Regions from separate parts of the Homo sapiens genome. Here region 1 is linked to region 2. Evidence: fine-mapped expression QTL. A gene starts in region 2. The other region holds a variant in brackets. All regions are shown on one strand. Distances are from middle to middle.

Region 1 (5,382 bases), 36 kb before region 2:
TGGTGATGGCCTGGATACAGTTTTGTATGAATTGAAAAACTAAACGGAATAAGAGAAGGAGAAAACAGGTATTAAAGGACTAAGAATTGGGAGGACCTAGGACATCTAATTAGAGAGTGCCTAAGGAGGTTCAGCATAGCCTTGCCAGTAAAGATTATTTATTTACTTCAAGAGTTTAGAGTGGCAGTTTGGGGATAGCACCAGGAGATATCAGCTGTGATGTCTTGGAGAAACAGTGTAAACCGGCAGTGTAAACAAGAGCAGGGCATGTATGAGTAGTTGAGAACGGTGAATAGGAGTATGACTAGACAGAAGATAGTAGGGATGACAAGTTTTTTGGGGCACAGTCTAAGTTGGTCTGGTGTCTGGAATGAGACTGGGGCCTAATAAAAAGGAGCGTCTATACAGGAGCTCAAATGGGCTGTACCCTGTAGCATTCTGAGCACAGGTCTGACTTCTGAGAAGGAAAAGTGGTAAAAGTATTGTCCAGTCCTTTTTAAGCTGGTGGCTGAGCTTGGTGAGGTGTGTTTTTAAAAGACCTTTAGTCCGTTCTACTTTTCCTGAAGACGGAGGACCGTAAGGGACATAAAGGTTTCCTTGAATACTAAGAGCCTGAAAAACTGCTTGGCTGATTTGACTAATAAAGGCTGGTCTGTTATCAGACTGTATAGAGGTGGGAAGGCTAAACTGAGGAATTATGTCTGACAGAAGGGAAGAAATGACTGCGGTGGCCTTCTCAGACCCTGTAGGAAAGGCCTGTACCTATCCAGTGAAAGTGTCTACCTAGACTAAGAGGTATTTTAGTTATCTGACTCGGGGCATGTTGAGTAAAGCTAATTTGCCAGTCCTGGGTGGGGGCAAATCCTCGAGCTTAATGTGTAGGGAAGGGAGGGGGCCTGAATAATCCCTGAGGAGTAGTAGAATAGCAGACGGAACACTGAGAAGTTATTTCCTTGATGATAGATTTCCACAATGGAAAGAAAATGAGGAGAGATTCTAAGAGGCAGGCTAGTGGCTTGTACTATAGCATAGCCTGCCTTTGCTGGTGTGTGGCGATTAGGCCTGGTGGAACTGCCATCAATAAATCAAGCGTGATCGGGGGAGGAACAGGAAAGAAGGAAATATGGGGAAATGGGGTGAATGTCAGGTGGATCAGAGAGATACAGTCATGGGGGTCAGGTGTGGTATCAGGAATAATGTGGGAGGCCGGATTGAAGTCTGGGCCAGGAACAATGGTAATTGTGGGACTTAACAAAGAGTGAGTACAGCTGAAGGAGCCGGGGAGCAGAAAGTATATGCATCAGGTATGAGGAAGAAAATAGATTTTGGAAGTTATGAGAAATGTAGAGAGTGAGTTGAGCATAGTTTGATTTTTAGGACCTCTAAAAGTATTAAAGCAGCGGCAGCCGCTGCCCACAGACATGAGGGCTAGGCTAAAACAGTAAGGTCAAGTTGTCTGGACAGAAAGGCTACAGGGTGCGGTCCTGGCTCTTGTGTAAGAATTCTGACCACACTAACCATGCCTAGGAAGGAAAGGAGTTGTTGTTTTGTAAGGGATTGAGGTTTGGGAGATTAATCGGACACGATCAGCAGGGAGAGCACGTGTGTTTTTATGAAAATTATGCCAAGATAGGTAACAGACGAGGATGAAATTTGGGCTTGACTGAAGTAATGGGGGCTGCCTGTGAAGCCTTGCGGCAGTACAGCCCAGGTAATTTCCTGAGCCTAATGGGTGTCAGGGTCAGTCTAAGCGAAAGCGAAGAGAGGCTGGGATGAAGGGTACAAAGGAATAGTAAAGAAAGCACGTTTGAGATCCAGAACAGAATAATGGGTTGTAGAGGGAGGCATTGAGGAGAGTATATAGGTTTGGCACCACGGGGTGGATAGGCAAAACAATTTGGTTGATAAGGCGCAGATTCTGAACTAACCTGTAAGCCTTGTCTGGTTTTAGGACAGGTAAAATGGGGGAATGGTAAGGAGCGTTTATAGGCTTTAAAAGGCCATGCTGTAGCAGGCGAGTGATAACAGGCTTTAGTCCTTTCAAAGCATGCTGTGGGATGGGATATTGGCATTGAGCGGGGTAAGAGTGATGAGGTTTTAATGGGATGGTAAGGGGTGCATGATCGGTCGCTAAGGAGGGAGTAGAGGTGTCTTATACTTGTGGGTTAAGGTGGGGAGATACAAGGGGAGGATGTGAAGGAGGCTTTGAGCTAGGGGAAAAGGTGGCAATGAGGTGTGGCTGTAGCCCAGGAATAGTCAGGGAAGCAGATAATTTAGTTAAAGTGTCTCGGCCTAATAAGGGAACTGGGCAGGTGGGGATAACTAAAAAGGAGTGCTTAAAAGAGTATTGTCTAAGTTGGCACCAGAGTTGGGGAGTTTTAAGAGGTTTAGAAGCCTGGCCGTCAATACCCACAACAGTTATGGAGGCAAGGGAAACAGGCCCTTGAAAATAAGGTAATGTGGAGTGGGTAGCCTCCGTATTGATTAAGAAGGGGACGGACTTACCCTCCACTGTGAGAGTTACCTAAAGCTTGGCATCTGTGATGGTCTACAGGGCTTCTGAGGCAATCAGGCAGCGTCAGTCTTCAGCCGCTAAGCCGAGAAGATCTGGGAAGGAGTCAGTCAGAGAGCCTTGGGCCAGAGTTCCAGGGTCTCTGGGAGTGGCTGCCAGGTGAGTTGAACAGTCCGATTTCCATCCAATTTCCAGTGGGGTCCCGCACAGATGGGACACGGCTTAGGAGGAATCCTGGGTTGC[G/A]GGCATTCCTTGGCCTGGTGGCCAGATTTCTGGCACTTGTAGCAAGCTCCTGGGGGAGGCGGTTCTGGAGGAATGCCTGGCTACTGCGGTTTAGTCGTTTGGAAGTTCTTGTGTGCTGGAGATGTGGCTGGGGTTTGTCTCACAGTGGAGGCAAGGAATTGCAACTCAGAAATATGTTGCTACTTGGCTGTCTCTATTATTGTACACCTTGAAGGCGAGGTTAATTAAGTCCTGTTGTGGGGTTTGAGGGCCGGAATTTAATTTTTGGAGTTTTATTTAATGTCAGGAGCGGATTGGGTAATAACATGTATATTGAGAATAAGACGGCCTTTTGACCTTTTAGGGTCTAGGGCTGTAAAGCGTCTCAGGGTTGTTGCCGAACGAGCCATGAACTGGGCTGGGTTTTTCATATTTGATGAAAGAGCCTAAATGCTCACTGATTTGGGAGACATCTGATAAAGAAAAAGGAGCATTAACCTTGACTATGCCTTTAGCTTCAGCCACCTTTTTAAGAGGAAATTGCTGGGCAGGTCGGGGAGGGCCACTCACGGAATGAAACTGTAAACCAGACCGGGTGTGAGGAGGGGAGGTGATAAAAAGATTATAGGGTGGAGGAGCGGAGGCTGAGGAAGAATTGGGACCTAGCTCGGCCTGGCAAGGAGCAGCCTGGGGAGGAGGGGAGAGGTCAGATGGGTCTGTAGAAAAGGAAGATTAGAAAGACTCAGCAACACTTGGGGTTGGGACTGAGGGGACAGGCGGGAGGGAAAGAAGGAAGATTTGGGACAAGTTGCACTGGGCACAGAGACTAGGGAGAGACCAATGTGTAAAACAATGCTTGGAAGTCAGGCACCTCAGACCATTTGCCCATTTTATGACAAGAATTATTTAGATCTTGTAGAATGGAAAAATTGAAAGTGCCATTTTCTGGCTATTTGGAACCACTGTCAAGTTTGTATTGGGGTCAAGCGGCATTGCAGAAGAAAATAAGGCATTTAGGTTTTAGGTCAGGTGTGAGTTGAAGAGGTTTTAAGTTCTTGAGAGCACAGGCTAAGGGAGACGGAGGAATGGAGGGTGGAAGGTTGCCTATAGTGAAGGAGGCAAGCCCAGAGAAAAGAGAGAGTAGAGACATGGAGGGAAGGGGTTCGAGGGTTCTTAACCTCCAGAAAAGCGGGAAAGGGGTCGGGGCACGGAAATAAGGGGTTGAGGTGCAGAGATGAGAGGTCGGGGCACGGAAATAAGGGATTGGGGATTCTTGCCCCCTAGAAAAGCGGGACTTGCCACTAAGGGTGAAGGAGAAGGGGTTGAGGGGTTCTGGCCCCTCCCCCAGAAAAGTGGAGAAGGGGTAGAGACACGGAGAGAAGGGGTTGGGGTACTTGCCCCTCCCACAGAAAAGCGGAACTTGCCGCTAAGCATGAATGACCAAGGCAGGCATCCCTGGGTGGTCTGACACCGCTGAAACGTGGGTGAATAATCAGAGAGGCATCCCTGCAATGATTAAACACCAAGGGAAGGCTGCCTTCCCAGTCCGTGACCGGCACCAGAGTTTTGGGTCCATGGATAAAGCATGTCTCCTTTGTCTCTACCAGAAAATGAAAGGAATTGAAATTAAGAGAAGGGAGAGATTGAAGTGTGGCGCCAAGATTGAAAGGAGAAAGAGGTTGAGGGATAGTGAGGGAGGTTGGAGAAGAGAGTAAAAAGAGGCCGCTTACCAGATTTGAAATTAGTGAGATGTTTCTTGGGCTGGTCGGTCTGAGGACCTGAGGTCGTAGGTGCATCTTTCTCACAGAGCAGAGAGCAGGAGGACAGGGGATTGATCTCCCAAGGGAGGTCCCCCGATCCAAGTCACGGCACCAAATTTCATGCGTGTCCCTGTGAAGAGACCACCAAACAGGCTTTGTGTGAGCAACAAGGCTGTTTATTTCACCTGGGTGCAGGTGGGCTGAGTCCAAAAAGAGAGTCAGCGAAGGGAGATAAGGGTGGGGCCGTTTTATAGGATTTGGGTAGATAAAGGAAAATTACAGTCAAAGGGAATTGTTCTCTGGCGGGCAGGAGTGGGGGGTCACAAGGTACTCAGTGGGGGAGCTTTTGAGCCAGGATGAGCCAGGAGAAGGAATTTCACAAGACAATGTCATCAGTTAAGGCACGAACAGGCCATTTTCACTTCTTTTGTGGTGGAATGTCATCAGTTAAGGCAGGAACCAGCCATCTGGATGTGTACGTGCAGATCACAGGGGATATGATGGCTTAGCTTGAGCTCAGAGGCCTGACAATTGGGTTTGACCAACTCTATCCAACTTGATCAAATCTGAAGGAAAGTTCCACATTACGGGGAACAAGACCTCTGAATTGGCTAAATTCCACAGCTGGAAAAAAAAAAAAAAAAAGCAGGGAGAAGGAAAAACAGTCCAGCAAAAGGGGATAAAAGAGAAAGGTTCTTGATTTTGACTACCCTGAGGGCTTTATTTACATAATAAGGCCAGTTTTTGTTAGCCAAGCCAAACTGAAAGAGTAATGGCTGTCGCCCCATGCAGCAGTTCCATAGCTAAGCTTCTGCCCCCACTTTTTTTTCATCAAGACAGTCTGGGTTTGGTTTCTAAAGCCCTTTCTGGTTTGATATTTGTGTTACT
Region 2 (5,382 bases):
GATGAACTCAGAGATGTTGCATTGGAATGACGTTCCCCTCAATGGAACCTGGAGGCGACACTATGATGCACTTACAAATAATGTCCAACTGCGTTTCAAAGACTAACTGTGGGTAATGACATCCTTCCCTGTGAAACACACCCTAATATTCTGTGAGTCTGGGGTCTTCCATAAGACTGCTTTCTCTTTCATAATCTCTGAGATTCTTAGATTATTATAATGAAAGGATGAGAAGCAGTGATTGAAAGAGGAGAATGAACTCCATCAACTGCCCTCACTCTTATCTGCAGTCTCAGCTTTTCAGAGAAAGCATACTTAGAACTTCTATTTTGCTTTCTAAAATCAAACCAAGGTGGCTGGTAAATACATTTCAGCTCTTCCTGGAGCATTTCTAGCCACCTAAAAAAACGGACTGTGCTTTTTAACAAAAGGACCAAAAAACTGTTGATGTTCTAAGGCACTGATTCTTAACTTTGGCTGCACAGTAGAGATACTTAGGAACTCTAAAAGCTACAAATGCCAAGCCCTGTATCCAGAGATTTTGGTTTCATTGATCTGGGGTTCAGTCTGGGCAGCAGGAGTTTTGAAAGCTCCCCCTCTGATTTGAGTCCATTGCGAAGGCTAACAACCTCTGCCTTTAGGCAGGAGGTCAGCCAGGTCCTTGACCTCCATTGGCCACCAGTGGGAGCAAAGTGGCCATTTTTTGCAAGTTTAATTTGATTTTATTATTACTCTATTTACCAATCTGTTGTTGTTGTTGTTGTTGTTGTTTTGAAACAGAGTCTTACTCCGTTGCCCAGGCTGGAGTACAATGGTGCGATCTTTGCTCACTGCAACATCCACCTCATGGGCTCAAGCGATTCTCCTGCCTCAGCCTCCTGAGTAGCTGGGACTACAGGTGCGTACCACCACACCTGGCTAATTTTTGTATTTTTAGTAGAGACGAGGTTTTGCCGTGTTGACCGGGCTGGTCTCTACCTACTGACCTCAAGTGATCCGCCCACGTCGGCTTCCCAAAGTGCTGGGATTATAGGCGTGAGCCACCGGGCCCCGGCTATTTACCACATTCTTACAGTACAATTATACTGGCTATCACAGCAGCTTACAAATATCAAGTAGGAATTGGATAATTTCAACTGCAATCCCATATGTGTCATTGGCCCAGTTGACCGAATTCCATATGGGCCACCTACAGTCATTTTGTAAAGCATTGTAAAATTTTAGTGCAGAATTAATTTACCTTCAAGATCCATAATGAACATTAGGTGGGTATAAAAATTAACTTCAGGCCGGGCGCGGTGGCTCATGCCTGTAATCCCAGCACTTTGGGAGGCTGAGACAGGCGGATCACCTGAGGTCAGGAGTTCGAGACCAGCCTGGCCAACATGGAGAAACCCCGTCTCTACTAAAAATACAAAAATTAGCCAGGCGTGGTGGCACACACCTGTAGTCCCAGCTACTTGGGAGGTTGAGGCAGGAGAATCGCTTGAACCCGGGAGGCGGAGGTTGCAGTGAGCTGAGATCACGCCACTGCACTCCAACCTGGGTGGCAGACCCATTAACTTCAAAAGACTTAAGTGTACTTTAAATTGTTGTCAAAATTAACTCCAAGGACTTTGGGGAAAAATATATAGTACATTTTGGATGAGACTCTCTTGAAATCAGACTTTTCAATTGCTCTTAAACCTCATTGAATTTTCTAGAAAATGTATCATTTAAAAAGAAGTGTAAAGTTCATTTTTAGTCTGACAGTTCTTGACAATAACAAAAACGGACCACCTGCTATGTCTTGACAGTGTAAAATAATAATTACAGAAATTGTAGCATGTTATTAGGTTGGTGGAAAAGTAATCACAGTTTTTTGTACCAACCTAATTATTTAAAACTCTGACCAAGAAAAGTAGCAATTAATGTCGAACTTTAAGCCTCCAACAGTAGGTTAAGCTCAGGCTTCACTAGGATCTAGCAATTGACCTATGTATGTGAAGGAAGAGAGTTTGTCCTTTTCTACAGAAATAGCAAAGGAAGAATATTTCCCTCACCTTCTCTTCCAACCCTGTTGTTCTGGAAGAGGATATTGTCTCTGGTAGGGCCAGTAAGTAATATTTCCAGTTCAATTTCTAACTTGAAATTTTCTTATTTTCCTGTCCAAATTAGTAAGATCATCACTGCATTTGATTTTCAAAATTTACTCTCTAATTCCTTTATACTAACGTGTGCACAAATTAAAGATCATAGCAAGCCGCTTTACCTGCATTTACAGTTGTTTCGATCTTTAATTTTTATCCTTATTTGCCCATTTATTACTTTCTAGGCTCACACCATTTGCCACCAACCCAGATTTCTGGGTCAGAAACCCCATATTCTGTTGGAAAGCTTTGCTAAAGAAATAGAAGTGGCTTACCATGTTTCTGTTGTTCTAATTTTTCATTCCGTAACTTGCAGCAGCGCAGAATGGTACCCTCTATGCAGGAGGTGGCCGAGAAGAGAAACTGGCTAACTTCCTGAAATGGCTCTATTTACCATCAGCAGAACGTAGCGTGTGTTTTACAGAAGTTTACATGAAAAGAAGGGAACTTGTGATTTCTTAGCTGTTGCCAAATCATTAATTGACTGTGCTTTAAAACTTTGAAACTGAAGTTATGGGAAAAAGTCATTTATGAAATGATTTAAATACAACCCAAATCAGACACACACGACGTATTTTTGTTAGTTTTTGTGTATTTGTGTGTACAGGGGAGAAAAAGGGAACATTATTCCATTCACTAAGAAAACTTCAGTGTATTCTTTTTTAAAAAAGTTACCATAAATTTGTACTGAACTTCGGATTTCTCAAACTCGTCTTCCTTGTGTAATTCACAGATGTAGGCGAATAACATGAACATTGCTTCATCTTTGTTCCACAAGTTTCTGAGACAGCACCGGTAGGTATGGGTCTCCCTCCCACTGGGCTGTGGCCGCAAAGCGAGCATCTTTCTCCTGGGCGCCCCATGCCTCCTCCAGCACCTGGCATGTAGTATAAGCTCAATGAGTGTTCATTGTATGAACGAGTGAGTCAATGGCTGAGCATTCGTGAGGCTGGAAAATTTAATCTTCCCGATTTAGTCTGATAAATGGATTCCATTTTATGCTCGGAGAGCAAGGGCCTCAAAAGGTGTAACCAAGAGCAGAGGTCAGCAAACTGCAGCCTTTGAACGAAATCCGGCCCAGAAGTGAAAACATTTTTAGATGAACATTGGCAATGGATTTGCTGATACAGAACACTAACTTTAAATTCCAACCAAGCAGAATGTTAGCACCTCCAAAAATGATTCCATTCTTCTCATTATTAAACCTATACTACAAAAAAACTGCCTTCGATTATTATTATTACATTTTGAGTTTCATCAATTACATAATTGTGGAAATTTTTATTTTACTATATAAGTAGCTACATAATATGCCAAATTTGCTTCTTGGCCTGTAAAACCTAAGATATTTGCCATCTGGCCCTTTACAGAAAAAGTTTGCTGACCCCTGGCCACAAGAATAAAGTTTAGAACGGGATGTGATATGTTTCATCTTGCCTTACACCCCAGGAGTGGGAGAAAACCAAATTGGCAGCAGGGTGGGCAGAGATGACATCCATATATAAATGGACTGTGGAACACCTTGTTATGAAGGAAGGCCTGTCAGCAGTCAAAGAATGGCTTGGGTGGGTATACCTAGATGGACCTCTAAAGATCACACCCTAAGGGAATTCAAGACCTGGTGCATGGTTTGAGAGGTGATTCCTGTGACATCAGAGAGTGCAGCCTGGGCCTTCATGGGCAAACCAAAAACATTTGTGATTGTAAACCCAAAGGCCTCGGCTGGCCGCATCCAAGTCTCTTGGTTTCCCTCCAAACATTTGCTTGGAAATAAAGTAAAGAAAGTAAGTAAGAATGGATCGAGTGCAGTGGCTCACACCTGTAATTCCAGCACTTTGTAGAGGCCGAGGCAGGAGGATCACTTGTGCTCAGGGGTTTGAGACCAACCCGGGCAACATGGCAAAACCTTGTCTCTAAAAAAATACAAAAATTAGCCAGGCATGGTGGTGTGCACCTGTAGTCCCAGTTACTCGGGTGGCTGAGGTGGGAGGATCGCTTGAGCCCAGGAGGTGGAGATTGCAGTGAGCCATGATAGTGCCACTGCACTCTAGCCTGGGTGACAGAATGAGACTTTGTCTAAAAAAACAAACAAACAAACAAACAAAAAACAGCGAAGTAAAAATGACTTCCAGCCGTTGACTGAGCAAGGATCCTTGGAACTGGAGAGTTTGTCAGCTTTCTAGAAAAGCGAGACTCACATACCCTGGCTTCTAGGCCACCAAGTGTCAGCCAATTGTAGACCAGTCAATTGGCCTTGTAAAGCATGCTTGTATACGTATATATATATATGTGTGTGTGTGTGTGTGTGTGTGTGTGTGTGTATCATCATGTATATATGATATATATATATTTTTTATGTACATATGCATGTTTATATGTATATATACACACATACAGTCTAGTATCTATGTCAAGCAAACTCATAAAAATGAGTTACTTACTTATACCAAATGAGCCTTCAGTTTTCTCCACACAACCAGTACCATAAAAGATGAAAATGAAAATGGAATTGACACCAGGGCAGGAAGGTTACTGAGAGGAAGAAGCTCCATCTGCTTGTAAAGTAGCCAGATGATTGGCTTCTGCCCAAGCCCAGAAACTGGTCCTTGGTGGCCAGGTCTGCTCTCCCCACCCTGCACTGTGAGGCCAAAAGCTCCTGGGCATCTCCTAGACCAATCTTTCCTTACTCTTCCCCTTGCCATCCATGCTGACACAGATCTTGATTCCAAAATGGAGAAGACCTGTCATGAACCGCTTCTGCCAGGCAAGCCTGCCAGACAACGTGCACTTCCCAGACACACAAATCACCAGCAGACAAGCCTCTCTGAGCCTTAGTTTTCTCATCTGTCAAATTGGGATAAGAATAGTAGTATCTTTCTCAGATGTTGGCTTTGAGGATTAAATTGTTCATATCGTGGAACTCTTAGAAAAGTAGCTGGCACAAAGTGAGCGTTCAACTAGCAGAGCTGGAATTATTATTACTACGCTTGTTGTTACAGACTTCACACATTCCTGGGCTGTTGCCAACAGTAGGCCTGAAGAACCACTCTTGGGGCCTTCCCCAGCCCTGGACACAGCCCTTTCCTCTCGAGTGGATGACCAGACAATTCATAAGGCAGCAAATGGCTTCCCCATACTGGGGCTGCCGCGAAGTACCACATATGGAAATAACGTGCAACCCTGGAAAAAGCTCAAGGTCTGGGAAAACACCAAGTGCCTGGAATCAGTTGTTTGTTGTGAAATCAATGCTAAA

Evidence for each region. PIP is the estimated chance that this variant, and not a neighbour inherited with it, causes the effect. A credible set is the group of variants that fine-mapping cannot tell apart.
Region 1: its variant is the best candidate, but not a certain one, in a credible set for the expression of TLR8 in blood mononuclear cells (TOPMed, PIP 0.87).

Annotation. Positions count from the first base shown.
Region 1 is chrX:12,939,507-12,944,888 of GRCh38, reverse strand. TLR8-AS1 (TLR8 antisense RNA 1) reads left to right here and starts at 1,589. Exons shown (of 5, transcript NR_030727.1): 1 at 1,589-1,711; 2 at 2,555-2,671. The variant G/A (reference allele first, on the strand shown) is at 2,756.
Region 2 is chrX:12,903,732-12,909,113 of GRCh38, reverse strand. TLR8 (toll like receptor 8) reads right to left here and starts at 2,494. Exons shown (of 2, transcript NM_138636.5): 1 at 2,405-2,494. The coding sequence starts at 2,407. TLR8-AS1 (TLR8 antisense RNA 1) reads left to right here. Exons shown (of 5, transcript NR_030727.1): 3 at 781-898; 4 at 2,863-2,924; 5 at 5,129-5,382.